3 separate regions of the Homo sapiens genome follow, and regions 1 and 3 are each linked to region 2. Evidence: fine-mapped expression QTL. A gene starts in region 2. Each other region holds a variant in brackets. All regions are shown on one strand. Distances are from middle to middle.

Region 1 (8,174 bases), 62 kb before region 2:
CCAACGGGTCCAAATACCTACTCTTCCCCTCCATGGCACAGGTCCCCACCCCAACGGGTCCAAATACCTACTCTCCCCCACATGGCACAGGTCCCCACCCCAACGGATCCAAATACCTACTCTCCCCCCCATGGCACAGGTCCCCACCCCAACGGGTCCAAATACCTACTCTCCCCCCCATGGCACAGGTCCCCACCCCAGTGGGTCCAAATACTTACTCTTTCCCTCCATGGCACAGGTCCACACCCCAACAGATCCAAATACCTACTCTCCCCCCCATGGCACAGGTCCCCACCCCAACGGGTCCAAATACCTACTCTCCCCCACATGGCACAGGTCCCCCACCCCAACGGGTCCAAATACCTACTCTCCCCCGCAAGGCACAGGTCCCTACTCCAACAGGTCCAAATACCTACTCTCCCCCCCATGGCACAGGTCCCCACCCCAACGGGTCCAAATACCTACTCTTCCCTCCATGGCACAGGTCCCCATCCCAACGGGTCCAAATACCTACTCTCCCCCCAGTGCCACAAGTTCCCCACCCCAACGGGTCCAAATACCTACTCTCCCCCCCATGCCACAGGTCCCCACCCCAACAGATCCAAATACCTACTCTCCACCCAGTGGCACAGGTCCCCACCCCAACAGATGCAATTACCTACTCTCCCCCCCATAGCACAAGTCCCCACCCCAACAGATCCAAACACCTACTCTCCCCGCCATGCCACAGGTCCCCACTCCAACAGATCCAAATACCTACTCTCCCCTCAGTGGCACAGGTCCCCACCCCAACAGATCCAAATACCTACTCTCCCCATGCCTGAGCTCCCCTCCAGTCCCACGGGCACCCACAGCAGAGTCTGAGCAAGTCTCCTGGGACACCCTCCAAGCAATGCTGAGTCCTGGGCCCCAGCCTCCAAAGCTCCCCCCACCACCTGGGGCCCAGGCTCTCACCCTCGGAGCGGCCACAGCAGGGGCCTTCCAGAAGCACCACCCTGTTCATCACCCTCTTCCTTCCTAACATTTTCTGATGCTTTCAAACAGACTGAAACCCAGAAAAGATCTAAGAGTGTTCAATGAACAGACAGGACAGAGTCCTGAAAGAGGCCCCAAGACACTCAGGAACTTAGTCCCCCCTCTTCTTTGCCTGGAAAATCCCTTGTGGATGTGGCTGAAGTTTCACTAGGTCTGATGAACAAGGGCCCACCCGCGGGAAGAATCAGTCACTTCCTCAGTGGTCCAGCAGCAACTATCACACCCATGAGACAACCAGACAATAATCCACTTTTTATTGATGTGTGTTTATTTTTACTTATTTTTCTTTTTGAGACAGGGTCTTGCCCTGTCACCCAGGCTGGAGAGAGGAGTGGTGCAATCACAGCTCACCGTAGCTTCAACCTCCCAGCCTCAAGCAATCCTCCCACCTCAGCTTCCTGAGTAGCTGCAACTACAGGTGCATGCCACCATGCCCAGCTAATTTTTTAATTTTTAGGAGGAGGGTAGAGATGGGGTCTTGCTATGCTGCCCAGGCTGGTCTCAAACTCCTGGGCTCAAGCAATCCCCCTGCCTCAGCCTCCCAAAGTGCTGGGATTACAGGCGTGAGCCACCGTGCCCGGCCCATTCACTTTTAAAATACTGGTCCCTACTAGAAAAGAAAAGGCTCTCGGTCAGGAGGGGAGGGGACGGCTGTGTCCCAGGGTCCTGGCCCTACACAGACCGTGGTCAAACCAGGGTGCATGTGGTGGTCTGGGCAGCAGCGGTGGCCCGAAGCAGGTGGCCACAGCTCTCCGTGTGTCAGATCCTCACCTGGAACTTGGGGACAGTGTTACCACGTGCCCTCAGGGCTGCCATCAGGACAGCGAGACAGCACACTCACAGCTCTCAGCCACACACCTGACCCCAAGCAGAACTCAGGGAGCGTGAGTTACAACTGCCTCCCGAATCGGAGTGGCTTCCTCATTCTGCAGGGAGCAGACAGGTGGGCGTGCAGGGCCTGGTCTCAGGAGGGCTGATCTTTCCCACGGAAACCGTGTGACCTGGGCAAGCCCCCCGCTGTCTCTGAGCCTCAGGGTCCCCCCCGACAAGTGGGAACAGGGTCACCAAATTGCTGACAAGATGCTTTGTATTACAAGGAGCCCCATAGGGCCAGGACCAGCTCGACGGTTACATTCCCCTCCATGGAGGGCCCTCCCCACGCAACCTTCCCTTCGCCTGGCCTCTCTCCACAGACCCCCATCCCCAGCCAGCTGGTGAATTCCTCACACCCGCTGGCAGGCGACGGGGCTATTTTTAGTGACCAGGGCTCAAGAATGGAGCCATGCCAGGACCCATGGCGTCCGTCGGAATGTGAAAGCTGGTGCATCCCTCCTTCTGGTCGCTATGTGGTCCCCGACACAGCACAGTGGCCAGTGCTGCACCAGGGCTTAGCCTCAGGCCTGCATGAACACAGCCTCTGCCCTGGCACCCTCCATCTGAAGGACAGCCCCATTCCCTGCCCGGGGCAGTGGGCCTTCCTGCACCTTCTCTGGGCCTCGGGTCCCCATCCACATACTGGGTGCTGGAGGCAGAGGCCACGTGCAGCATCTCAGCCCCCAGGTCTGCAGGGGCTTGTCAGTGACAACAAAACGTGAACTGGCTAGGGGTCAGAAGATGTGGTACCGGAGACCACACACCACCAAATTCCACAAGTTTCAAAATGTTACAGCAGCTGCTGGGTGTGGTGGCTCATGCCTGCAATCCCAACACTATGGGAGGCTGAGGCCAGAGGATCGCTTGAGCCCAGGAGGCTCAAGTCCAGCCTGGGCAACACAGCGAGACTCTGTCTCTACAAAAACTAAAAAAAAAAAATAGCTGGGTGTGGTGGTGCACGCCTGTGGCCCCAGCTAGTCGGGAGGCTGAGGCAGGAGGATCACTTGAGCCCAGGAAGTCGAGGCTGCAGTGAGCCAAGATCGTGCCACTACACTCCAGCCTGAGCAACGGAGCAAGACTGTGTCTCAAAAAAACAAAAACAAAAATCTCAGGGCACCAAACAGCCAGGACCACAGGCAAGATCCACGCAGGCCACGATCACCTGGGGGAAGTGGTAAGAAAGACCTGAGGTTCTTCTCTCCACTCACAAATCAGACAAAGCAAGAGGGCTTGTTGTCACTGTGGTATTAGATAGCGCCAGCCCTGGAGACCCTTTGAAACAGGCTCCACGGAGAGCTGCAACTGCCCCGCAGCTCCAGGCGCAGGCCACGAGACTTGTTATTAGCTGGAAAACGCTAGGCGTGTGGAAAATGACTGTTCTCTTAAAAAGGTTGTTGTCTTTTCCCGGCAGGTTAATGAGCTGTGTGTGCATTCACGGTGGGCAAGTCAGCCCCAAGCAGCCACATCCCAGCCAGGTCAAAGTCCCAGCTTCTACTCCAAGCTGGGTGGCCCGACGCAGCCTGCTTAACCTCTCTCTGCCTCCCCTGCCAAACGGCAGCCTCGGGGGCCACGGGGGAGCTCTAGAAAGACAACATGCC[C/T]GAGGCCCATGGCCCAGGGACTGGCCATTGCATACATCATCTGATGCAAGCTTCAAACCCCAGGCTTCAGCCTCCGTTGAATTCAGCTTCTAAAGCCTCCCGGGCTCACGTGGCCCCTGATTTGCTAACCTCAAGGTCTCCTCTGCTGAGATCCAGCTGGGCTTTCTGCAAATGGAAATCAAATTCTTTGCATGTTCAAGCCATTAAGCATCTCCTCGGATGAGGCCCTGCATTTTCCAAAATGCTAATTTTGTTTTTTTAATGTTGCCCGAAAGGGAAGCAGAAAGTCCCAAAGCCCAAGCCAGAATGGGGAGAGGGGGCCGTGAAGGCTCAGAGAAGCCAGGAGACAGCTCCCTTCAGCTGCCCGTGAATTCGGCAGAAGGGCTTGTTTTTCCCATCACCTGAGGATCCGAGCCAGTTTGTGGAAAAACAGACTGCAGAGATACGCGGGTGGGAGGAAGAGAAACAGCGACAGATAACAGACAGCTGCGCAGGCCAGCGGTGCTGCTCAAGCCAGAGGCCTGTTTTAATTAAAGCAGCAGAGAGCTGGAGCCACTGCCAGGAAGGCCGCCTCAAGGGTGAGGTGCCCTCGCCTGTGCCCGTCTGGCAGCTCCAGTAATGAGGTCCCCGCCGGAGGCCCAACGCACAACACAAACACGCACGGTGCCACCCAATTATCACGTTTCTCGGCTCCCAGGAGCTCAGCGATGCTCCCCCTACAGGCGCCCTAATCAGGGAAAGCCGGGAAGGGACCGGGATAGAACCCAAGGGCCTCCACCTCACTCCCCAAGGCCTGGGACACACGCTCCAGGGACAGCCTTCATGGTCCTGGCACATCAGAGAGCTCCGGAACATGCGGGGCTGCTTCCCTGGGACACACGCTCCAGGGACAGCCTTCATGGTCCTGGCACATCAGAGAGCTCCGGAGCACGCGGGGCTGCTTCCTGAGGCTGCTGAGGTCCCTGGCCGAGGCGTAACTGCCCCGGGCACCCCAGGTAGGATGCGGAATCTGCTTCGCTCCAATAGCTGACACAAGGTGAGAAGGCTGCACCTACCACCACCCTGGGGCCTGCCCTGGGAGCTACTCAACTCTGCAGAGGGGCTGTGCAGGTGCCGTCCCAGGGGATAAGGACACCCCACTCCAGCCCCAGCTGGACAATTGCTGTGTGGGTCAGTGCAACAGGCCAAGGCCCCCTCTCACTGGGTCTCAGAGCTCTGTTCAGTACAGTGAGGTGGGGACAAGGTGGCCTCCTAGGGATCTTCCTGCTGACTGTGGGTGCTGGGAGGCCCGGAGCGGCCTATTCACCAACTCAGGCCCAGGGTGGAGCAGAGAATGACTCAAGGCTACCCCAGCCTCTTTCTCAGACCAAGTACTGAGTGGGGCCTGACTGCGGGGTCTGTCTGGATAGCCGGGCCAGCCTCCAAGGGGCAAGGCACCATCCAGAAGAAGTACCTTCATGGACTCCACTGCCACACAGCCAAAGGGCCACAGAAAGATGGTGATGACAATGACCACAACAGTGATGATGATGGCGGTGATGATGATGATGGTGATGATAAAGATGATGATGGCAATGGTGGTGATGAGGATGGTGGTGGTGATGGTGATGATGATAATGATGGTGATGATGACAGTGATGATGGTGATGGTGGGGATGGTGATGATGATGGTGGTGATAACGATGATGATGGCAATGGTGGTGATGAGGATGGTGGTGGTGATGGTGATGATAATGATGGTGATGATGACAGTGATGATGGTGATGGTGGGGATGGTGATGATGGTAATGGTGATGACTATGATGGTGATGATAATGATGGTGGTGATAACAGTACACACATAGATATTCTTGCTTTATATTCTCACAACAACCTCAAAGTAGGTTTTATTATCTTCATTTGACACCTGAGGAAACTGAGGCTCAGAGAATGTTATTACTTATAAATGACATCCACAACTCTCTCCTTCCAAAAGATGTTTTAAACACACCTTAAATTCTGTGGTATCTGAGTGAGATTGTGTGTGCATGACTGTGTGCATAGGCGTGCCTGGGAATAAGACCACTCCAGCCCAACACCTGTGTGATGGGAACTCCTGGTCCTGTCTCACCCCTGAGCTGTCTCCCTGCAGCTGCAGTTCACTACAGGACAGTATGGACCCCGCTCACTGGCAATGCCTAAATCACCCATTCTCAATCTTCCTTCACCATGCAGGCAGGGTAGCGGCAGGTGCAGGTGATGTGTCCTTACAGGGGAGGGAGCACAGGCTTAGGTGCCCAAGAACTCGAGCTCAAACCCTAGCTCTGCTCCTGAGGAGTTGTGGGGCCTTGGACAAGGACAGGGAAGGAAACTGAGGCTGTGAGGTTGACACTATGCCTCTCACAGATCCTGTGCAAAGGCCCAGGGAAACCCTTCGATCAAGGCCAACTAGCAATACCACCATCCTAGAAGGACAGGCAGGCGGTCTGGGGGAGTTGCAGCCTCCCTCACAACCACGTTGCACTATCTTCCTTTAAATCAAAGGTCTTAAACATAATTTCTACCCTTCTCCAAGCTTACGTATCTCTCGCACAACCTTATGTATCTCCCACACTGTTACGGATCGACAAGAGCAAAGTCACACAGCCTGTGATGATGGGGATATCTGTCTTGAACCTGAACTTGTACGGAGGGGTCATTAGGCCAGCAGGTGTGCAAACCCTGCAGGTGGATGCATCTGCAAAGGATTCTCTGCCGCACTCTTCCTAAGCGGGGAAGCAGAGAGAAGAAGAGCAGGCAGCCTCAAAGTCAGGGGTGTGCCAGACGCCCTGTAAACTTGGAAGGAATTTGGCTTTGCTCGCCAAACCACAGCTGAGCAGAGGCAAAGCTATGAAGCTCAGCTTCTAGTAAACTGGAAAAAGCAAACTATCTGGATGCTGCACAGGGGAGACATCACGTGAAAGGTCCAGAGACAATCCCTCCCCTGCCCACTCCCTCTGGAACCGGTTTCCTGAGCCATCAGCCTGTTTCTTTAGAGACCGTGGCCAGAAAAAGGAGCCCACTGGGGCTTCGATATGGAAAGTGAGTTTTCCTGTGTGCAAAACAAAAGAGCTGAAACCGACACACACACCCTGTGCAAAAGCTTCCTTTTCAAGCCAGCCTTACAAAGAGGAGTTTTTAAGCCAACCATCTGCTTCCTCTGTTTCTTGTCCGCGTAGCTCTCGGATCCAGAGGGGTCAGAGATGGAGGGCGCATGTCGTTCTGATTCTCAGGGCCAAGGGCACAGGACCCAGCACTGGACATAAACAGCTGGGATGGCCCAGAGATATCATTTGACTCAGCTCACACTCAGGGTCCAGGCTGGCCCTAAAATAAGAGCTTTACTGAACCTACCTAGAGCCTGGGAGCTGGGGAGGAGCCCAGAAAGGATTTGAGGAGTTTAGCTGAAACGCAGTTGCCACCAAGAGGGCACAGAAAGGAATGGGAGGCTCTGAGTTCGGTCAGGCTGGAAGGGAAGCACAATCTGTGGTTCCTCAAAAAGCTAAACATGGAACTACCATATGACCCGGCAATTCCATCCATCAGCATCTGCCCAGGAGACTCAAACAGACACCTGCACACCCATGTTCACAGCAGCACTAATCACAATAACCAAAAGGTGGAAACAACCCAAGTGTCCATCAGCAGACAAATGGATACACAAATGGGGTGTGGCCGTGGAGTGGAATATTACTCGGCCCTGAAAAAGGAAGAGAGCATTGATACATGCTATGCTGTGGATGCACCTTGAAAACACTGTGCTCAGTGAAAGAGCCCATCACGAAAGGTCATATATCATGGTTCATTTAAGTCCCATAATGACTTACATGAAATATTTAGAATAGGCAAGCTCATAGAAAGAGAAAGTAAATTGGGGCTATCAGGGGCCCAGGAGGGGGTGATAGGACTGACTGCTGAATAAGTGTGGGGCTTCCATTTGGAATGATGAAAATTTTGGAAACAAAGAGTGGTGATGGCAGCACACCATTGTGAATGTAACTAATGCCACTGAATTAAACACTTAAAAATGGCTAAAATGGGCTGGGTGCAGTGGCTCACACCTGTAATCCCAGCACTTTGGGAGGCTGAGGTGGGTGGATCACCTGAGGTCAGGAGTTCAAGACCAGCCTGGCCAACATGCTGAAACCCCATCTCTACTAAAAATACAAAAATTAGCCAGGTGTGGTGGCGCACACCTGTAATCTCAGCTACTCGGGAGGCTGAGGCAGGAGAATCACTTGAACCCAGGAGACGGAGGTTGCAGTGAGCCGAGATAGCGCCACTGCACTCCAGCCTGGGTGACAGAGTGAGACTCCATCTCAAAAAAAAAGAAAAGGTTAAAATTGCAAACTTTATGTGATATATATTTGCCACAATGAAAACAAGAGCGAGAGAGAAGGCTGGTGGGCAGGTCCACGTGCCATATTTTTTTTTTTTTTTTGAGACGGAGTCTTGCTCTGTCGCCCAGGCTGGAGTGCAGTGGCACGATCTCAGCTCACTGCAAGCTCCGCCTCCCAGGTTCACGCCATTCTCCTGCCTCAGCCTCCTTAGCAGCTGGGACTACAGGCTCCTGCCACCACGCCCAGCTGATTTTTTTTTGTATTTTTAGTAGAGACTGGGTTTCACTGTGTTAGCCAGGATGGTCTCAAT
Region 2 (8,174 bases):
GCTACCTGAGGCTGCCGTAACAAAGCACACCAGGCTGGGCAGCTGAATGAAACAAATTTGATTTCTCAAGATCAGGGTACGGGCTGGCTCCTCTTGAGGTCTCTCTTCATGCTCATACTGCATTCTCCCTGTATGCACGTCTATCTCCAAAATTTCTCCTTTTATGAGGACAGCAGTCATATTGGATGAGTGCCCAACCTCATGACCTCATCTCACCTCAATCACGTCTGCAAAGACCTTGTCTCCAAACAGGATCACTTCCTGAACTATGGGGGTTAGGACTTCAGCATATGAATTTTGGGGAGACGCCATTCAGCCCGTAACACTCCCATGAGGCCTTTGCTCATGCTATTTCCTCTCTCTCCAACACTCCCCGTCTCCCACCTCCGCCCTTTCACCTGGCTATGTGACATGGTTTGGCTGTGTCCCCACCCAAATCTCATCTTGAATTGTAGCTCCCACAATTCCCACGTGTTGTGGGAAGGACCCAGTGGGAGGTAACTGAATAATGGGGGCAGGTCTTTCCTGTGCTGTTCCTATGATGGTGAATAAGTCTCACGAGATCTGACGGTTTTATAAGGGGGAGTTTCCCTGCACAGGCTCTCTCATTTTCTCTTTGCCTGCTGCCATCATGTAAGATGTGACTTGCTCCTTCCCGCCTTCGGCCATCATTGTGAGGCCTCCCCAGCCATGTGGAACTGTGAGTCCAGTAAACCTTTCCCTGTATAAGTTACCCAGTCTCGGCCATGTCTTTATTAGCAGCGTGAAAATGGACTAATACACTGTGTTTACTTATTCTTCATATTTCACCTCTGCTACCATTTGTTCAGGGAAGCCTTAAAAGTCTAGTTCAACATCCCTTGACACTCATTCTCTCAGGACCACCACGGTTAAACACATACTAATTTATCCTTCCATTAAGGGCTATCTCATCCTGCAAGACCCTAAGATCTGGGAGAGCAGGGACCATGGCCAGTTTCTACATCATTGTCATCCTGTCCCACATGTTGCAGACAGTGCCTGGTCAAACAAATGCCTGTTGGAGGAAACAATGAATGAAGGTTACTGAATATGCTACATAACAACTTTTCAGAAGTACTGATGGGCCGGGCGTGGTGGCTCACGCCTGTAATCCCAGCACTCTGGGAGGCTGAGGCGGGCGGATCACGAGGTCAGGACATCGAGACCATCCTGGCTAACACAGTGAAACCCCGTCTCTACTAAAAATACAAAAAATTAGCTGGGCGTGGTCGTGGGCACCTGCAGTCCCAGCTACTTGGGAGGCTGAGGCAGGAGAATGGCATGAACCTGGGAGGCAGAGTCTGCAGTGAGCGGAGATCGCGCCACTGCACTCCAGGCTGGGCGACAGAGCAAGATTCCATCTCAAAAAAAAAAAAAAAAGACGTACCGACAAACACCACCATTTTGCAACACGAAGATCAACAACAAAAAAGAAGGTCAAACTTGAAGTTCTGTCCTAAAATTACACACATTCTGCCTTTAGAAAACTCAGTGCATGGTCACAGATGAGAAGTGCCTGGCTAACCAGACTTGGGGACTCCTGGTTTGCAGTGAGTGCTGTCAAACTCGCGTTCTAGGCTGGGCTCACAGCAACTCCGACTCCAAGCTGTTTAGGCGCCTCTGTCTCCACTCAAGTCCACAGTCAAGGTCACTACTGTGAAACACTGTCTTGCTTTTAATTTCCAAGCTGCCTTGTTATTTCTTGGGAGTAGGCCAAGCTAACTTTAGGAGGAACTTAGTTTATAGTTTAACTTTGAAACAAAGATGATAACAGCCCTTTCCTGAAGCCAACCTCCTTCTTGCCTGGGGACCAGAATGCTTTTGTAAGACTAACACATGAGCCACAAGATTAGAAATTGTGGTTTGAGTCATGCAGCTAGAGGCCACAAGATTCCAAACCTCCCCAGTTGCTCCTTAGGATAACACCACTATCATCAACTCTAAGATTGGTGCTCAAGATATTTTTCAGGCTCTGCATTCTGATGCACCAGGTGCCACCACCCACACCACTAATCTGGCTCAACCAGTTCTGTGATCCCACCCAGGAACAGAAGACAGCAAGAGAATCAACTTTGACTCTCCATGGTTTCATCTCCAACCCGACCAATAAGCACTGCCCTCTCCCTGGCCCCCTACCTGCCTAATTATCCTTAGATGACCCATCTCAGGATTTTCAGAACCTGGTTTGAGCAATAAAGCTCCAGTGTCCTTTAGCCAGTTTCTGCATGCAGCCAGTTTCTGCATGCAGCCAGTTTCTGCATGCATTAAACTCTCTATTGCAATTCCCCTGTCTTGATAAATTGGCTCTACCTGGGCAGCGAGTAAGGCGAACCTATTGGGCGGCTACGCCTGAGATCTAATGACAGGCTGCACGTGAAGCCCAGACCAGGCACCTGTCTTACACCACAGGGGGATCCAGTCCACAGAACCAGCGTCCTTCCCTCCTGGAACGGACCTTCCCAAAGCCAGAGGGGCTCTAGGCGGCTCAAACAGGGGCTTCCCGGCTACCCTGGTCCCAGGCGGGACCACTCAGGTTCCTTCTCCAAGCCCCCTAGGCTGCAGGGCAGGCTTCCCTAGGGGCAGGCCCAGGCCTATAGCCCGGGACCCGCATCCCGGGCGAGCTGCACCCTCCCGAGACCTTCCCCATCTGTACAATGGGGACAGGACAAGGCCCAGCAGGCAGGCTGGCGGGGGTTCCGGCGACAGAGGGGGACAGCGGGCGAGCACGACAAGAGCACAGGCCCACGTGCGCACCGGCGGGGAGGAAGTAGCCCGGCGCCCCGCCCGCAGCGCGGACCGGAAGTGCTGCCGTAATCTGCGCTGAGAGTCGCGAAAGCGCTGTTCCCCTTAGTGACCGGCGACGCGGGCAAGATGGCGGCGCTGGGGGTGGCGGAGGCCGTGGCGGCCCCACACCCGGCTGAGGGGGCCGAGACGGCTGAGGCGGTGGAGCTGAGCCGCGCCCTGAGCCGCCTGCTGCCGGGGCTGGAGGCCGACAGCAAGCCGGGCCGGCGGCGCGCCTTGGAGGCCCTGCGGCGCGCGCTGGAGGAGCCAGGCCCTGCCGCCGACCCCACCGCTTTCCAGGGCCCCTGGGCGCGCCTACTGCTGCCGCGCTTGCTGCGCTGCCTGAGCGACCCCGCCGAGGGCTGCCGCGCGCTGGCAGTGCACCTGCTGGATCTGGGCCTGCGCCGCGCCGCGCGGCCCCGCGATGCCCTGCCGCGCCTGCTGCCCGCGCTCGCCGCGCGCTTGGCCGGCCCCGTGCCCGCGCGCCGCCCGCCCGAGGCCTGTGAGGAGCTGCGCCTGGCGCTTGTGCAGCTGCTGGGCCTGGCCGTGGACCTGTGCGGCGCCGCGCTCGCGCCCCACCTGGACGACGCTCTGCGCGCGCTGCGCTGCTCCCTGCTCGACCCCTTCGCCGCCGTGCGCCGCGAGAGCTGCAGCTGCGCCGCCGCCCTGGCGCAGGCCACGCCCGGTGAGCACCCCGGGCCCCGCTCCCACACGCCACCCCACACTCTCACCCCCACCTCCACCTCCGCGGCCCCTCTCACAACCCCCGCGGCTCGGCCCCGCCCCCCTCCACGCCCGCACCCCCCAACATCCCGGACCCCCCATGCGCCGCTTCCCCCACCCGCCTGCCCCAAAGCACCCCGCCCGGCCCCCTCCTCCCACCACCACTGCTTCCCCTGCCTCACGTCCCGCCACCAACGCGCCCTTCAGCTGCTCCCTTGTCCTCTACCCCCATGTACCTGTTTCCTGCGCTGCCACGTGCTCCTTGCCCCGTGACCCCTGTTCCTGCTTGGCCCTCACTCACCTCACTCCCCTGTCCCCTTGCTCCCCGCCTCCACCCTCCACGCCCCAAGCCCCGCCCCCCACCTGCCTGCTCCCTGTGCCCCCTCCACCTGCCTATCCTGTGCCATCCTCCTCCTTGCACGCCGCCCTCCCGCGACCCTCACCTCCCACCCTCCTCCCTGCCTGAGCCCCCTCCACCCCACCCGGGCCCACGAGCCAGCGCTTCTGTCCAGATACCTGGAAACCACCGCAGAAATTCCTGTTAGGCGGTTTGGGGTGGGGTGTGCCCTGATAGCTGCCCCCTTTCCTTCCCTCGGGGGCTTGCAGGACTTGCACCTGGTTGAGGGCACGCGCTTTGAGACTCTGCTCTGGTCATTTCACTTTCTGTCCCATTCATCCTACTCCCCTGCCTTTCCGCTCTGGCTTGGACCACTGTCCTAAGTGGAAGGAGGCCGCTTCTCCCCTCCACTTTATAACGTTCCCCATCTTTTTTAGAGCTCTGATCTGATCCGGTCGTTCCCTTTCCTTAGCTGGCCATTCCTGCAGGGTCTTGCCCTTTCCCTCCCCTGGCTGGGATGTGGAATGATAGCAGGCGCCTGCTTCCTGCTGGCGGGAAGGCTTTCCGAAGGAGGGAACACTGATGCTATAAATCCGTGGGCGGTAGGGAGCAGGAAAGCAGTGAGGGATCTGGCCAGCTCAGGCCGTCCCAGTGATGTCCCAGTGATGGTCTGAATGTAGTGGGAAGTGCAGGGGGTGTCAATAGAAGTGATAGACCCGAGTTCAGGTTGTTAAAAGATCACTGCAGCTGCGTGGAGAATAGATTCCAGAAGTAGAGGAAGAGCTGGACTTGGGGAAATGCCGAGATTTCCACGTTGGTTAACTTTGGATTTCACATGGTCCAGAACTCCTGTGGAGCTTGGGGAAGAACCTTGGGCTGGATGGACATGGCCATTGAGAATTCCTGGCATTTAATGTATTTCTTCTTCATCCTCAACCACTTCCCTACCCAGTCTGTACATCAGCCCCACGAGCTCCCTCCCTGGACCGTAGGTTCCACAGGACAGCACTGTGCCCATCTGTGCCCCAGCCCCAAGCGCAGCCTGCTGGGGTATGTGCTCACTGGTTGCTGTGGGGTGAGGGACTGTGCCTCTGCCTGGAGCATCCCCTCATCTCCAGCACCTCTGGCCTTCCTCTCCCCTGGGTGGGGGGCCTCACCTCTGGTCTCGGTCACACTGGGCAACGGCAGAGAGGTTGAGGCGCTCACCCAAAGTCTCACTGGAATAGCCGTTTCCCAGACGGGCCCCAAGTAGTGCAGAGCTGAGGCAAGAGGCGGCCTGGATGCCAGAGACCCTTTGGTTCTGACTTTTTTTTTTTTTTTTTTTGAGACAGGGTTTCACTCTGTCTCCCAGGCTGGAGTGCAGTGGGGCGATCTCAGCTCACTGCAACCTCCGCCTCCTGAGTTCAAGCGATTCTCCTGCCTCAGCCTCCCAAGTAGCTGGGATTACAGGCGCCTGCCACCTCTTGTTCTGACTTTCTGCGGGGACTTTACAAATAGGAAGTGCAGTGGCTTTGCCTGGAGTGGTGCTGGCCCAGCTTCCTGGAGGAGCCTGGGGTCTCGTCTCAGGTGGGGCTGGGAGTGTGGCCTCGCCTCTGTCTTCTGGGCTCGGCTTCTTTCCTCTGGCCAGTGTCCCCGTCAGGCCTCCACCTTGGCTTCAGCAGGTCCAGGCTCTCTGGTCTTCAGCCACAATGGGTTTGCACCCCCAGCCTTTCCCCGCTGGTCCTCCTAAGCCTCTGGGTTGCACAGGTGTCATCAGGGTGGGACGCTTGTCCCTGAGCCTCTTCCTGTGCCGGGCGGTACAGAGCTCTCCTTGGCAGCCTGGATTGTGTACTGTTCATGCAGCAAGGACCTGGCGTAGGAGAGGAAGGGAGGTGAGGAACTCATAGGCAGGCAGCCGTCCTCTGGAAGCCCACAGAGCTGGGCGAGGCGTGTGGGAGCAGCTCTGGTAACTGGGGGCCTCCCTGTCCCTCAGACCACTTCCACATGCAGTCGGAGTCTCTGATCGGGCCCCTGATGCAGACCATCTCCCACCAGCACTGGAAGGTCCGTGTGGCCGCCATTGAAGCCACAGGCGCAGTGATCCATTTTGGCAACGGGAAGTCCGTGGACGACGTGCTTTCCCATTTTGCTCAGCGACTGTTTGATGACGTCCCGCAGGTAACTGGTGTTTCTCCTGGACAGTCTGTTCCTCTCTCCAACACAGGCGGGCTGACGTGCTGTTTTTAACTAACTCACTTGTTCTTTTTTCAGAGTGCTGTATGCACCAAATGTCCTTTCATTATTCCTAGTCACAGGACGTTCCTGTTCACATCTTGGAAAAACTAGAAGAGAGCTGAACTGTTTTAATGTTTGATGTTATGAATTCCAAGGATGTTAGAAAGGATGACTTGTGTAGTTATTGTCTCTTAGGCACAGTGTGCACTTCAGCAGTTGCAGAAGGTTCCTTAGTGCTCCCATCCATCAAGACGCACTTTCCCGAAAAGCCACCATGGTTGGTGGACCTGGACTGGGAGAAGAGTGGAGTCGGGGTTGGTTTGTTGGGGATAATTATGTCGTTGGGCTTTGGAACCCACCAAGAGACGGGCAGGCAGGCAGGCAGGAGTCCTACAGATGGGGCTGAGTGTTGGCTTTACTGCTGGCAGAATCTGGCCTGGAGGGCATGTCTTGGATCTGAGGCCCCAGTGACTTGCTAAAATGCTACACACTGTGGCCACCGGGGAAGCTGAGTGACCTCTGATCTTTCTGTCTCTGAGTTACCTGTCATCGTAGTCAGACATGTGATCTTTTGTGTCTGGCCTCTTCACTGTGCATGGTTCCAGGTTTCAGCCTTGAAGAGGTAGGTTTCCTGATGAGAAATGGCTTGAAGGTGGTGAGTTGAAGAGTCACTCGGGGTATTCTGGGGCCAGGATGGAAGCCCTGACTCGCTCCCTCGTCTGTGCTGCTGGGGTCCACCCGTAGGGCCGGCTCCAGGTGTGACATAGCACCTGCTCAGGACACCCCTGCTTTGCCTCCATGGCCAGGCTTCATTCTCCGGCTCTCTCCCTCCAGCAGCAGAGTGGCTGCCTAGGGGCTGTGCGCAGAGACACAGGGGGACCCTTTCCCACCAGGAGCCTTTGTTCACCCCCCTTGGTCTCATCAGGCCAGCGGAAGTTGAGTCACCATGTACGCTGGCCGGCCCCTCCTGGAGCTGGCGTGGGTTCGGCACCAGGCAGCACAGAGGGCCCCTGAGGACATCAGGCTCTGCCCAGTGGGGAGAAAGTGGGCAGAGTGCGGGGTCAGTGTCCATGCTGCCCGGCACTTGCAGCAGGCACTTCTGGCACTGGCTAAATATTTGGGCTGCGGAGGGCAGTTCAAGGGGCCAGGGCAAGAACAGAGCCCAGCAAGAAGTGCAGGCGGCCGGCTGGTTTTTCTCTCCCACCTTCCTTAAGCCTGAGGCAGAGCATGGCCCACAAGGAAAGTGGAGTCTGTGTCATGGGCCAAGTCTTACTCCTCAAAACAGTGTGATGACTCTGTATGGAGAGCTCTGTGTGAATACTGAAGCTCCATAGCTGATAGCTGTCGGTGTAAGCCTACTGTCACTGTCTAAAAATAACCATCACTGTCTAAAAATACCGTCACTGTCTAAAAATACCATCACTGTATCGATAGCTGTCTGTAAATACTGGAACTCTGTGGAGCACGCTCTGTAAATACTGGAACTCTATTGCTAGCTGTAAACGGTGTAACTCAGTATAACTATACCGTAACTCTAAAAATACCATAACTATGTGTCGACAGCTGCCTATAAATGCTATAACTGTATTGGTAGCTATGTATAAGCAGCCTACTCTGTATCAATAGCTGTCTGTTAGAAAGCTGACATCACATTGTTGATCTAAAGCAAGCTTGTCCAACCTGCGGCCCGTGGGCCACATGCAGCCCGGGACGGCTTTGAATGCTGCCCAACACCAATTCATAAACTTTCTTAAAATGTTACGAGATTGTTTTTGTGATTTTTTTTTTTCTTTTAGCTCGTCAGCTATCATTAGTGTTAGTGTTATTTTATGTGTGGCCCAAGACAATTCTTCCAGCATGGCCCGTTTCTTCCCAATGGGGTTTGCGTCCTATTAGAGACCCTGCACGGCCCTTCACGTGAGTTTCGTGTGGAGTCACGGTGCTGCCCCTTTTACTCTGATCAGCCCTGCGACCCCGTCCTGGAGCTCCATGTGGGCTCCTTGCAGACACCTCCACCCCCTCAACAACCCAGGGACTGGTGCCCTGGGACCCCATCCTCTCTGCACAGAAGGTCCTGACTGCCTTCTGACTCGTAGGA
Region 3 (8,174 bases), 110 kb before region 2:
AGCTCCGTTCACAGCCAAACTCGCCTTCAAAAGGCAAGGAGATGGCGCGCCAAGCTCAGCCCCTGAAATCACACACGCGGGGTTGAACGTGAGTAACTCAGCCCATCGTTCCGCACTGTGAATCTGCTCCAATACCTGCAGAGACAGGTCCAGCTCCCACTACGAGGGCCCACCGACCAACACGGTACACCGAGGGTGAAAAAGCCACGACCAGGCCCACCTGGAAAACACCATCAGCTCCTAGAAATGCCACTTCCTTCCTCCTCCCGCCGCTCCGGGCCTCCCGAGCCAAGACAAGCGCAGGTTGGGACTTGCACGGGAAAGCTCACCTGAGAATGTTTCCAGAAACCCCTCCCCAGCCTGCAGAGACCTCTCCCGGCCCCAGGACAGGGAAGCCTGCGGAGCCAAGAGGGTGCAGTGCTGGGAGGTCCCCGCAGGGGCAAGCAGGGCTGCCACCAAGCGGGTGGGAGACACCCAAGGACTCGTCCACCACCCAGGGAACCGGACTGTGAGGTTCAGGTCAGCATGGAGGGCGGGAGGCGTGGCGCCCACAGAGGGGAGGGGAGCCAGGCCCAGATGACAGACGCCTGCAGACTCCACGCCCCGCACGCCCGACCAGGACAGGCCAACGCAGGGCTGGGCACTTCTTCGGACTCACAGGAAGCCTCTGTCCATAGTCTGGCTACATCTGCCCAACCTCAGCCACTCAGGACTGTCTACACAAAACACTCAGCAGCATATACGACAGGATGCGCAGAATGACAGATTCAACCTGCCTCATCAGCTCCAAGATGGTGGAACACGGCTAAGACCCAGGTCTTCTGACAAAAGGCTGGGTTGAATGCCTTTCACCTGAGAGAACGCCCCGTTTACATCCCCTCCTCTGAACTTCACCGCCACAGGCCCCATTACTGCCCCACTTCACAGACAAGGAAGCTGAGGCTTAGGAAGCTGACATGGGCCAGATGTGGTGGGTGGCTCATGCCTGTCATCCCAGCACTTTGGGAGACCGGGCACCATAAGGAGGTGAAAGGATCGCTGGGCCCAGGAGTTTGAGACCAGCTTGGGCAGCATAACAAGACCCCATTTCTATAAAAAGTAAAAAAATTGGCTGGGCGTGGCCAGGCACAGTGGCTCACGGCCTATAATCCCAGCACTTTGGGAGGCCGAAGCAGGCAGATCACCTGAGGTCAGGAGTTCGAGACCAGCCTGACCAACATGGTGAAACCCTGTCTCTACTGAAAATACAAAAATTAGTGAGGTGTAGTGGCACACACCTGTAATCCCAGCTACTTGGGAGGCTGAGGCAGGAGAATTGCTTGAACCTGGGAGGCGGAGGTTACCATGAGCTGAGATCGCACCACTGCACTCCAACCTGGGTGACAGAGCAAGACTTTGTCTCAAAAAAGGTAAAAAATTCAGCTGGGCATGGTAGCATGCACCTGTGGTCCCAGCTACTCGGGAGGCTGAGGCAGGAGGATTGCTTGAGCCCAGGAGGTTGAGGCTGCAGGGAGCTGAGATTGTGCCACTGCACTCCAGCCTGGGTGACAGAGCAAGACCCTGTCTCTAAAAACAGAAAGAAGGAGAGAGAGAGAGGCAGAAAGAAAGAGTGAGACAAAGAAAGAGAGAAAGAAGGCCAGGTGCAGTGGCTCACACTTGTAATCCCAGCACTTTGGAAGCCCAAGGCAGGCGGATCACAAGGTCGGAAGATCGAGACCATCCTGGCTAACATGGTGAAACCCCGTCTCTACTAAAAATACAAAAAATTGGCTGGGCATGGTGATGGGCGCCTGTAATCCCAGCTACCCGGGAGGCTGAGGCAGGAGGATTGCTGGAACCCGGGAAGCGGAGCTTGCAGTGAGCGGAGATCGCGCCACTGCACGCCAGCCTGGGAGACAGAGCGAGACTCCGTCTCAAAAAGATAAATAAATAAAAATAAAAAATAAAAAAGACAGAAAGAAGGAAAGAAAGAAGAGAAAAGAAAGGAAAGGAAAGGAAAAAAGGAAGAAAGGAAAGAAAGAGAGAGAGAAAGAAGGAAAGAAAGAAGGCCGGGTGCGGTGGCTCATGCCTGTAATCCCAGCACTTTGGGAGGCCGAGGTGGGCGGATCACGAGGTCAGGAGATCGAGACCATTATGAAACCCCATCTCTACTAAAAATACAAAAAAAAATTAGCCGGGCGTGGTGGCAGGCGCCTGTAGTCCCAGCTACTCGGGAGGCTGAGGCAGGAGAATGGCATGAACCCGGGAGGCAGAGCTTGCAGTGAGCCGAGATCGCGCCACTGCACTCCAGCCTGGGCTACAGAGCAAGACTCCATCAAAAAAAAAAAAAAAAAGAAAGCAAGAAAGGAAGGAAGAAAGGGAGGGAGGGAAAGGGAGAGAGAAAGAGAAAAAAGGAAGAGAGAAAGAGAGAAAAAAAGGAAGAAAGAGGCAGAGAAAGAAAGAAAAATAAAAAAAGAAACAGAAAGAGAGAAAGAGGGAGAGAGAAAGAAAAAGGAAGAAAGAGAGAGAGAGAGAGAGAAAGCAGCTGAGGCTGAGGCTGAGCCCAGGCAGGGGCTGTGCTCTCACCACTGCCGAGACCCTCCCAGGCCCAGCCCTGCCCGCGGGTGCACACGCAGAACACACTGGGTGGGTCTCAGCCCCTCTTGGCTGCAGGTACAGGCCCTGTCTGGTGTAGTGGGTCCTCGCCCCAGGTCCTGGCCCCCTGTGCTGGAGGCAGCCCCCTGGCTCTCACTGACAAAACGAGGTCACTCCGGACAGACTCGCAGGGCCTGGAGAGGTCAGAGATCTCCATCAACCACAGACCACCGCAGATGGGGGACCTTCCTTCCCCCTCCACCTGCCCAGAGTCACGCTTCCACCTCTGGCCAAACGCAGCCACCACCTGTGCCCACCAGGCCTGCCTGGCTCACTTTGTCCTCACTGATCCGGGGGACCAGGGGACCAGCTGGGAAACAGTGATGGAGCCCAGGGTCTCTCCGGAGCTGCGTCCTGCCAGCCGGCGGGGCTCATCCAAGCTAGGCAGGCCTGGCTTCCTCAGGCTGTGGTCCCAGAAGCACGCTCCACCCAGTTCTGCTGTGGCAGCCATCGCACAGCGGCTCCTCACCGGCCACCAGACCCCAGTGCCACGCACCGCTTTGGCTGAGGGTCCGTCGGCCTCCCTCCCTGCTGACGGCTACAACTTCACAGCCCAGCCTTTTCCCTCCACACCCAGCTCTAAGGTGTGGTTCCCAGTCATGCCCGCGGCATCGATGTTTTCAAAGACACATTCAGGACAAGATCTGACCCTTGAAGCCAAAAGCCATCCATGAATCCCAACCTCATGTATTTTTGGGAAAAAAAGTACAAATGGGGTGAAGCGCCTCGGGCCCTTTATTCTCCATCCAATCAAAACAGCCAAGTGCTCATCCCGGGTAATTTAAACAACAAGGAAAGTTTGGGGTTTTCTTGTTTATTTTAAAATCTAAACCCCAACACCCAAGTGCTTTTTTTTTTTTTTTTTTTTGAGACAGAGTCTCGCCCTGTCGACCAGGCTGGAGTATAATGGCACGATCCCAGCTCACTGCAACCTCCACCTCCCAGGTTCAAGCAATTCTCCTGCCTCAGCCTCCCGAGTAGCTGGGATTACAAGCACACACTGCCATGCCCAGCTAATTTTTGTGTTTTCAGTAGAGACAGGGGTTTCACCATGTTGGCCAGGCTGGTCTCGAACTCCTGACCTCATGATCCACCTGCCTTGGCCTCCCAAAGTGCTGGGATTACAGGTGTGAGGCACCACGCAGGACCAAGTGCCTTTTTTTTTTTTTTTTTTTTAAAGAGACCGAGTCTCACTCTGCCACCCAGGCTGGAGTGCAGTGGTAGCATCACAGCTCACTTCAGCCTTGACCTTCTGAGCTCAAGCGATCCTCCTGCCTTAGCCTCCCAAGCAGATGGGACCACCAGCCCGAACCACCACCCCCAACTAACGAAGTGCCATTTTAAAAGCAAGCTAATTTTTGGTGTGCAAATGCATGTGTTGGGCACAACCTATTGCTTAGTCACTTGCTCAGACCCACACTAACATCAGGCCAGCTGGTCAAGTCCCACCCAGCCCTGTAGGTTAAGAACAGTCACACTGGGTGATGGGTCCTTGTCACCGACTGTCACCCTGGTCCATTCCAGATACTCTCCCGGCCCCAGCTTTCCATCTGTTTCCCCCGTCCTGGCAGGAGGCAGAGCCTGGGCCTGTGAACCCAAGGGGTGGCAGCAGGCACTAGGCCCCTCCCGGAGCAGAGCCCAGGACGTGGCAGGTCGGACGGAAAGCAAACCCCTCCTGGGCCCCGCGTAGCACTCACCCAGCTGGAACTCGCAGCCTCTATCCGGGCAAAGGGCTGTATGGGAAAGCCTAGACACCCCGCCCCTGCACAGACACCTCCAGTTTCTCTTAAAACACAGACTCTTGAGCTGTGTTCACTTTCCCCAAGCCTGGAGGCCTCCAGGGAAGCAGAGGCCCCACCCACTTTCCCCCACCCTCCGCCTGGGACCCCCTCACCGCCCCCACCAAACCCAGGACCAGTGCAGGCTCCTCCCCACCAG[T/C]GGTAAGTGCCGGAGTGAGGGTGGGAGAGGTGGAGGCAGGGCAAGGTCCAGGAACACAGCCCGCACACCCATATCCCTGCACTCAGCTCACAGGCAGCCACAGCACTCAGACTGGGTCCTGCTGGGGCCACAGGGCAGCAAACCCCGCCGTTCCCGACAGGCCCACAGACCATGCATTTGGCAACACCTGTGTTTCGTGGGACATCCTATTCCAACATCTTTTCTTTAAACCCCAGATGTAAATATGGAGCACTCAGTTCATGCCGCTCTGTGATCTGTTCTTGTTTTGCCTATACATTTATTCCTCTCTTCCCATAGCCCTCTCGGTCTGTGGGCAATTGCTATAAGATACTTGAGGTCTCCCCTCTCGTTTGTATGTTTTCTCTTAAAACATAGAATCTTAAGCTATGTGCATTTAACCAAAAAATGGTATCCTGCTGCAGATTTCATGCTGTTTCTTCTTTTTCTTCAAGGAGTCCACATACTCTAGATCTACCCACGTCACCACATTGCCTGACACGTTGGGGCTGCGGCTTTGAACTGCCGTTTTGTTTGCATTTCCATTTCCCTGATCTCTAAGCTCTGAGCTGCTCTTCAAGGGCTTCTCCTCTGGTTGTGTTTCCTCTTCTGTAAACTTCCTGTTCATATCCTGTGCCCATCTTGATAGAAGGGTTGGTACCTTCTTTCCTGCTGATTTGCAGAAATTCCTTGTGTGTTTTAGATACCGGTTGCTTGTCGGGTTTAGATATTGCAACTATCTTCTTACACGCAGTCACCTGTTAACTTTTTCATGATGTCCTTAATTAGGTAGACATCTTTCATCTGATGTAACCTCTTTTTTGCTTTATGGTTTGTGCTTTGTGGGTTTTGTTTAAGAAAGTGTTTCCCCACAACCAAGTAATGAAATACTCTCCGACATGTCTGCCTGGGCTGCCATCACAGAGCACCACAGACTGGCAGCAAGACCCTGTCTTGAAAAAAGTGAGGTCCTACTGGAGTAGGGTTGGCCCTAACTCAATATGATTGGTGTCCTTATAAAAAGAGGAGACTTGGACACACACAGGGAAAACACAGTGTCCACGCAGAGCGAAGAGTCGGACGAAAGCACAGCAGGGAGGCAACACGGCACCTACAAGCCAAGGAGAGGCCAGGCCAGATCCCCACACACAGCCCTCAGGGGGAACCAGCCCTGCCCACATCTTGAGCTTGGACTTCTGGCCTCCAGAAGCATGAGACGCTTGATCACTGTTGTTAAGGCCAAGTTTGTCCTTCTGTTATGGCAGCCCTAGAAACTAACACAGTGTTTTACGCACAGTTGCTCATTTAATTCTCACAACAACCTTGTGGCATATATGATCATCACTCCCCTTATCCTCACATACAAGTGGGAGCAGGACAGAAGCACAGAGAGGTTAAGGAACCTGCCCAAGGTCACACAGCTAAGGAATGGTGGTGCTGGGATTCAAAACCGGGTGATCTGGCTCCAGAGTCCTTGTCTTAACCACTGCACTAAACTACCTCTTGCATCTATTAAATATGGAGCTCCCATGTGTGCCTGCACCTCCTCTCAGCTCTCGGCCCCACGCCATTGTTCTGCCGTCCCTTCCTGCAGGGCACCTGGCTCCATTTATGATCAAGGCCTCCTGCTGAGCCTCAGCTCTTGGTAGGAGAAGTCCCTCTTCTTTGTGCTTCTGTTTCAAAGATGACTTAGTTATTTGCAAATTTTTATTCTTTCCTTTCCTTTTTCTTTCTGTTGTTTTGTTTTTTGTTTTGTTGTTTGTTTTTTAGAGACAAGGTCTCACTCTGTCACCCAGGCTAGAGTGCAGTGGTGCGATCATAGCTCACTGTAGCCTCGAACTCCTGGGCTCAAGTGATCCTCCTGCCTCAGCCTCCTGAGTAGCTGGGCCTACAGGCACATGCCATCATACCCAGCTACTTTTTTTTTTTTTTTTTTTAGAGATGGGGTTTCTCTGTGTTGCCCAGGCTGGTCTCAAACTCCTGGGCTCAAACAATCCTCCCACCTCAGCCTCCCAAAGTGCTGGGATTACAGGCATAAGCCACCGCACCCAGCTCATTCACATTTCCGAATGTGTTTACTGCCTCACAATATTCCAGCTGCAATTTGAAGTGGAGCTGCTTTGAAGGTAGAGATTAATGTGAGGGAGAAATGACATCATCACGTTGAGTCATTCCACCCAAGAATACAGACCGCCTCTCCCTATTCAGATCGTGTTTTATGTCCTTATAGAGGTTTAAAACTTCCTCCCTAGAGTCTTCTGTAATCTGTTGTCAAGCACATTCCACTTCTCAGTGGCTGTTGCCCTCATGAATGGCATCCTTTCAAATTCTATTCTCCAGTTACTCCTCATCTGTGTCTCTTTTCTCATTCCCTGCACCCACCCAGCCCCTTGGGCTCTTTTTTTTCTCTCTTTCTTTCTGTTGAGACAGATTTAATATCTTCATTGTGATGGGAAGGAATCCGTATTTTTAAATTTTCTTTAAATTGACAAAGAAAAATTGTGTATATTTATTTATGGATTCCTTGGGCTTCTTAATGATGATTTTTGTAAGTTGAGCTTGCACCAACCCTGCTGAACACTCATAAGAATGTAAGAGTTGTTCTGTGTATTCTATGCTGGTTTCCATAGACATGATCAAATTCATCTTCTCTCTACCCTTCCAATTAGGACTCCTCTTATTTTTCTTTCTTTATAGCATTGCCGGGACCTCCCAAGCACAGTTAAACCATGAAAGCCATCAGAGCCTCATTGTGGTCCCTCCCTTAAAGAGCATGTAGCCAAAGATTCTCCATTAGCATGTTTGCTCTGTGTTGGGTATGTATGACCTTTACCAAGTTAAGAAGTGACCCTATTCTTAGTTTGCTAAGAATTTATGCAATAGTTGTTGAGCTTTGTCAAAACCTTTTCCAACACCTATGTGACATGTCACATGCTCTTTCTCTACAATCTACTAATATGGTGATTTACATGGATAGAGTATTCTGAGGTTGAACCATCCTTGAATTCTGGATCATCTCCACCTGATCACAGTACAGTACATACAATGATCTAGCAGCTTCCTCTTGTTTTCTATTTTCTGTAGCAATTTGAGAAGTAAGAATAGACAGTTTGCTGATGTTTGAAAGAACTCAACCAGTGAAACCATCAGAAAGAACCCTTTGGGAGGAAAGGTCTTTGGTTACCATTTCAACTTACTTAATGCTTCTAGATCTCTTCAGGTTTTCTATTTATTCATGTGCCAATGTTGATGGTATTTTCAAAATCATCTCCCAATATTTAAAAATTTACAAAATTCATAAAATCCAAATTGTTGGCTTTCCTTTGAAAAAAGAAAATAAAAAGAAAAGTCTGACAACACAGGGACCTTGTACTCCCAAAGCAAGAATTCAGCTCACCCCCACTTTGGAAGGAGCATGACCATCTCCAATCTGCCACAATTCCCAAGGACTCCACGTTTTCCACTTAATTCCTGAACCCCCAGGATCCCGAGTTTGCAACCCTTCCCTAAGGGGCTCACTATTGAGCAGTGGTGACAGATGCTTGTGTGGGGTGATGTCACAGCAGGTGGGGTCATCCCCATGA

The links. PIP is the estimated chance that this variant, and not a neighbour inherited with it, causes the effect.
Region 1: its variant is fine-mapped to the expression of PRKAR1B in whole blood (INTERVAL, PIP 0.96).
Region 3: its variant is fine-mapped to the expression of PRKAR1B in whole blood (INTERVAL, PIP above 0.99).

The regions. Positions count from the first base shown.
Region 1 is chr7:661,919-670,092 of GRCh38, forward strand. All of the region lies in intron 4 of PRKAR1B (protein kinase cAMP-dependent type I regulatory subunit beta), which reads right to left. Among named protein-coding and RNA genes, the nearest start is that of DNAAF5, 61 kb to the right of the region's middle. The variant C/T (reference allele first, on the strand shown) is at 3,507.
Region 2 is chr7:723,829-732,002 of GRCh38, forward strand. PRKAR1B (protein kinase cAMP-dependent type I regulatory subunit beta) reads right to left here and starts at 3,453. Exons shown (of 11, transcript NM_001164760.2): 1 at 3,382-3,453. DNAAF5 (dynein axonemal assembly factor 5) reads left to right here and starts at 2,871. Exons shown (of 13, transcript NM_017802.4): 1 at 2,871-3,487; 2 at 5,835-6,019. The coding sequence starts at 2,893. RefSeq lists silencers at 2,944-3,143, 3,394-3,443, 3,504-3,613, 3,654-3,733 and an enhancer at 7,038-7,537.
Region 3 is chr7:613,510-621,683 of GRCh38, forward strand. The region is part of intron 4 of PRKAR1B (protein kinase cAMP-dependent type I regulatory subunit beta); the gene reads right to left. LOC105375119 (a long non-coding RNA gene) reads right to left here and starts at 1,065. Exons shown (of 2, transcript XR_007060176.1): 1 at 330-1,065; 2 at 1-62. RefSeq lists enhancers at 1-436, 437-937. The variant T/C (reference allele first, on the strand shown) is at 4,573.